Linked DNA regions of Homo sapiens: region 2 is linked to region 1. The links come from fine-mapping of genetic effects on plasma protein levels. A gene starts in region 1. The other region holds a variant in brackets. All regions are shown on one strand. Distances are between the middles of the regions. Region 1 holds the start of CD274 (CD274 molecule). Region 2 overlaps CD274 (CD274 molecule).

Region 1 (2,955 bases):
CAGGCGGATCACCTGAGGTCAGGAGTTCGAGATCAGCCTGGCCAATATGGTGAAACCCCATTTCTACTAAAAATACAAAAATTAGCTGGGCGTGGTGGCAGGTGCCTGTAGTCCCAGCTACTCGGGAGGCTGAGGCAGGAGAATCACTTGAACCCGGGAGGCAGTGAGCTGAGATTGCACCACTGCACTCCAGCATGGGCAACAGAGTGAGACTCTGTCTCAAAAAAAAAAAAAAAAAGACAAAAAAAACCGGTTAAACTTCCTTTCTCAAAAGTAGGAGCAAGAGGCCTGCATGGTGGCTCCCGCCAGTAATCCCAGGACTTCTGGAGCCTGAGGAGGGAGGATCGCCTGAGGCTAGGAGTTCGAGAACAGCCTGGGCAACATAACAAGAGCCCCATCTCTACAAAAACAAAAAAAAAATTCTTAAGTAGGATCAAAGATTAAGACAGTTGATTTATTAAACCTCTACTAAGTGACCAAACTTTATTAAACTCCATGAAACCCCATGCCCAACCTCCTTCTCAGTCACACTGAGACACTCTTGTACATTTTCCACATGGGGTTTCAATTCCCCACAGTATTTCTGTGACTTCCTTGAAGACCACACTCTAACTGCTGTCATGTGGCCTCTGCCTACCTACTTTTACTGAGAAAGGCTAAGTTTTTCTTCAGAGTATCATAGTTCTCCTTAAATACTGTTGACGACTGTCATTGTCAACTGATACATCCTTTCTGGAAAGCATTTTCAGTTTTCTTCAAAAGGCCTTTAAAATATTCAGGCTCTTTGACTAAGTAGTTACACTTCTAAGTTTACTTGAAGGAAACAATCAGCAATATTCCAGAGATATATATGCAATGAGTTCAGTGAATGGCTAAGACAGAACCACTGTAAATAACCTTTATACCCAACAGTGAGGAATTAATTTCATTTAGTTACCCAATCTAATCGAATGCAGCAATGAAAACATTTTTTAGAAGGTTATTTAATTCATAGAAAAGCATCCACAGTAAATTTTTTTCAAGTATTAAAAAAAGAGGTAGAACAATGGTACTTTTACTCCTTGTGTTATAAGACAAACCCAGACTGAACTTTGACATAGGCCAAGGTCAATGTGTCTAAGAAATGTTTTATTATACTATTTTTATTCTTAGGCTCCTCCATTCCTCTTTTAGGACTCCTTTGGGTTCTCAGAATGGACAGAGCAAATAAATTCCGTTCAGGGATCCTGGACCTGCTTAGCGCAGGAAGAGACTTACTTAGATGCTGCAGCTGGGATAACTTACACAAGTCATGTTACTAGCAAGCAGCTGGCGGTGGACTTGGACCCGTGTCCAGACCTCCAGCCTAGCATCAGAGCTATATTCTGAACACACAGTCGCATAAGAATGACTACCTATCCTATACTACCTATCTTATTTATTTTTAGAGGTATAAATTATTTTTAGAGCAAAACTGAATCGCGCCTGGAGGAAGGCCAGATGCATTGCCTGTTCTTATTAACCCCAACAGGTAATTGGCTCTACTGCCCCCTAGACCATCGCGTTCCCTTTCCCTTCTCCTCTCTCCATCCCAAAGAAAGGGTGTAGAGACCCTCCGTCCTAAAGTGCCCAGCGAGCTAGCCAGAGATACTGGGCCGTGGGCACCCGCGGAGGAACAACGCTCCCTACCTGCAGGCGGACAGAAGCGCGGCTGGTGCGGAGCCTCGGGAAGCTGCGCAGAACTGGGGCCGCGCGGGACGCGCCAGCTGCTCAGCGTTGCGCCAGGCCCGGAGGCGGGGTCCCGCCCACCTCTGCCCAAGGCAGCAAATCCAGTTTGCCGGGCGTTGGACTTTCCTGACCTTCGGTGAAATCGGCGGAAGCTTTCAGTTTAGGTATCTAGTGTTGGTGTCCTAGGAATAAAGCTGTGTATAGAAATGAAACAGAAAGTGAAACATGTCAGTCCAGTTTTCTTGTAAATGAGATTTTCACCGGGAAGAGTTTCGAAGATTAAAGCAAATCCACATTTAGTATGTTATTAATAAAAAAAGAAATTTACAACAAGCCAACATCTGAACGCACCTTGATTTTACCTTCAGAGGGGTAAGAGCTTAAGGTTACCCCTTAACCTTTATCAGAAAGGCGTCCCCCTTTCTGATAAAAGCCTCTTCAAGGTGACTGAACATCTTGACATAACTTGATATAACTCTACAACATATAAAAAGTCAGCAGCAGACCCATATGGCTTTGGTTTTTATTCTAGAAAGTAGGTGTGTGTGTGTGTGTATGGGTGTATAATAGGAAATATATTTTTAAATCGTGGATTCTGTGACTTCCTCAAAGTTCCTCGACATAATGAAACTTCATTTGCTTTGTCATTAAAAGAACTTCCCATCCCGAGCTACATCTTTTAAGAATGCTCAGGGTCCCTGATATTCTGCCACCCTAAGGATTAAGGCTGCGGAAGCCTATTCTAGGTGAGGGTTAAGAAAGCCCTTTTGAAAGCTTTGGGTTAGTGAATGGGCCCAAGATGACAGACGATGGTGTCATAATTTACTTAAGTATTATCCCGCGCTGAACTTCTAGGTGCTCTCTTTTCTCGAACTCCTTGACCTCAAGTGATCCGCCAAAGTGCTGATATTACAGGCTTGAGCCACCGTGCCTGTGTGCTCCCTTTTCTTTTTTTTCTCTTTTTCTAAATTGAGAAATTGGACTCTTCGTTGTTTGCCTTTCCTTCTTATTCATTTCAACTGCAGTTCAAAATACTGCATAATGAATGAATATTGAGATAGCCCTTGCATTGGTTATGACATTTGCTTCCAAAATAAGAATTTTCACATTCTGATTGTATCACAGATTTTTATTTTTATCTGGGAAATTATTGAGGCTGACACTGCCTTGATTTGGCAGGAGCATGGAGTTCTCTTTGGCCCCAATAAAATTGCAATAGGGTTTGGGCCCAGCTCAGATGTTCCTTCT
Region 2 (2,500 bases), 14 kb before region 1:
TTCCCTATTTAACATCAGACAACTCTATACCATCACTGGATCTCTTGGTATACTTCTCTAAGTATTGGAGGAATTATTTACTCTGACTCATCTTAAATGGGAGGAAATTATTTGAATATACTCATTTTCCTGGATTTTAATTGTTCCCACAGGTAAATGGAGAAATGAACACATGCAAATTATGTAACATCCTCTACCAAAAATTTTGCAAAATACTCTATGGTAAACATACTACAGTTCTACAGAGGAACTATTTTTATTACTTAGGGTACCCAGAAACCAGCTGGTTGCAACTAATGCAAGACTAAAATGCAACTGAAAATGACGGGCATTTTAGCTCTTTCTCTTCTGTAAGTCTGTGGTTATTTTCATGATAGAAAAAAACTGTATGACACTGCATCTTCTACCTCCATCCATACCCATTCTCCTGCCCCTCACCCCTTACGCTTCATCTTCACCCAGTGATCCCACTCAGCTTCAATATAATTGCTGTTGAACAGTGGAATGCCTTTGCACCACCTTGCAGAGGTTAAGTCGGGTTTCCTTGCAGCCATGATCCAATTCTCACCCCTTCCTCACCCCCAGTGGAGACCACTGCAATTAAGGAAATACTACCTTTTCTTAAACGGAAGATGAATGTCAGTGCTACACCAAGGCATAATAAGATGGCTCCCAGAATTACCAAGTGAGTCCTTTCATTTGGAGGATGTGCCAGAGGTAGTTCTGAAAAACAAAACAAAACGAAAACAAACTGACTAAAGATAAAATTTTGATGGGAAGGGGTCAGGAGAATGGTCATCCTTGAAGTTTAGTTTAGCTTTAGGATAATTTTCTTAAATGCCAAAGTTTGAGTGGCTGGAATGGCGAGATACCTGTGTTAAAATGGGAACAGCATGGAGAAGTGTGAGAAGCCCAGGCTTTGAAAAGGTGGTGCTGGGGCTAAATTCTGCTGCCCTTAACCAGTTTTGAGGTCTTGGGCAAGATACTTAACCAGTGTACAAAATACAAATGCTAATACATTTCTTGTGAGGCTAATATTTATAATGTGCTTGCACAGTACCACATGGAGTGGCTGCTCACTATTAAATGGC[G/T]GCCTTGATTATTTCACTTCCTCTTGCTTTTTTTTTTTTTTTTTGAGGCAGAGTCTTTCTCTGTTGCCCAGGGTGGAGTGCAGTGGCGCAATCTGGGCTCACTGCAACTTCCGCCTCCCAGGTTCAAGCAATTCTTGTGCCTCAGTCTCCCGAGTAGCTGGGATTACAGGTGCACACCACCACACCCAGCTAATTTTTATATTTTTAGTAAAGGCAGAGTTTCACCATGTTGGCCAGGCTGGTCACAAACTCCTGACCTCAAGTGATCTGCCCACCTTGGCCTCCCAAAGTGCTGAGATTACAGGCATGAGCCTCCGCTCCTGGCCCCTCTTGCATTCTTTAATATAGAAGCTAGTAGCCTACAGTACATGGCAGAGATGGCCCACAGTAGAACATGGAAGGCCAACCAGCACTGCTAAGGAGCTCCCACCTCCTCCTATCTGTCATCATGATTGGAGGCCAATGCTTGTTGTCTTATCTTTCTCTGCAGTTTGAACATCTCTGGACAACAAGCCATTAGTATCTCTTACTAGGCTCCTTGTCTGGGGTACCATGCAGGAGGAAAGGGGGTCCCATGGTACACAGATGTTCAGAGGCTGCTAACTCCCACCTCTCACCCTTAGTCAGCTCCTGCCTGGCTCAGCTCTCCACTGAGACCCATGATCCATCTTTGACTACCCAGGTGAAACTTTAAAGACACAACAACAGCCAGCTTTTTCCGTAACTTACAGTTTACAATGCCTGTTCACGTATGTTTTATTTCAGTTTCAGAACAACTTTATGAGTTAGGCATGCCAGGTATTTAAAAAAAAATCCCCAATTTACAGATGAGGAAACAGACTCAGTGCAGTTAGGTGAGTTACTGTAGGCCACCCAACAAGTAAGTTGTCATAAAACAGCTTGTAAATGGCAGGAACCCACTAATCTAGCTTTTACTGAAAGCCAGTTCAATACCTGAGGACTCGTACCCCAGTAAGAGCATCCCCATCATTTTCTAAAGTTTTTTCCCCCTCTTTCTGTTCACAACACCGTCCTGGATTATCTTTTCCTATTGATTGACTTTTCTATCTAATTTTTCAGTTGTTTTTGCTGAAGTACGTGGCATTTTCCTATCAACATGTATTGGGGGAGGGGGCAGTGAGCAGCTCTTCTCAGAATATCTTTGTGTTTATATTAAATATCATGCTCACTCGCCTCACTTTCTTTCACATTCTGAGCCTCTCATCAGACTCTGTCTCCCACCCTACCTACTTCTGTAGAGTAGTGAGATAAAAAAAAATAGTTGAATTTGTGCAGGCAATGGTCTCAAATCATTTTCATACACTGTTGCTAATCTGACCCTTACAATAAGCTTGCTCAGTAGATTATAATCCTACAGGGAAAGTGAAGCACACAGAAGTCTAGTAATT

The links. PIP is the chance, under the fine-mapping model, that this variant and not a neighbour inherited with it causes the effect. The UK Biobank Pharma Proteomics Project read protein levels with antibody pairs (Olink). The fine-mapping took linkage between variants from a reference panel, not from the people measured, so its PIPs are less certain.
Region 2: its variant is fine-mapped to the plasma level of the CD274 protein (UK Biobank, PIP above 0.99).

The regions. Positions count from the first base shown.
Region 1 is chr9:5,449,310-5,452,264 of GRCh38, reverse strand. CD274 (CD274 molecule) reads right to left here and starts at 1,723. Exons shown (of 7, transcript NM_014143.4): 1 at 1,669-1,723. RefSeq lists enhancers at 1,447-1,606, 1,897-1,946.
Region 2 is chr9:5,463,722-5,466,221 of GRCh38, reverse strand. CD274 (CD274 molecule) reads right to left here. Exons shown (of 7, transcript NM_014143.4): 5 at 616-723. All of the region lies in intron 2 of INCR1 (interferon stimulated noncoding RNA 1), which reads left to right. Among named protein-coding and RNA genes, the nearest start is that of CD274, 14 kb to the right of the region's middle. The variant G/T (reference allele first, on the strand shown) is at 1,092.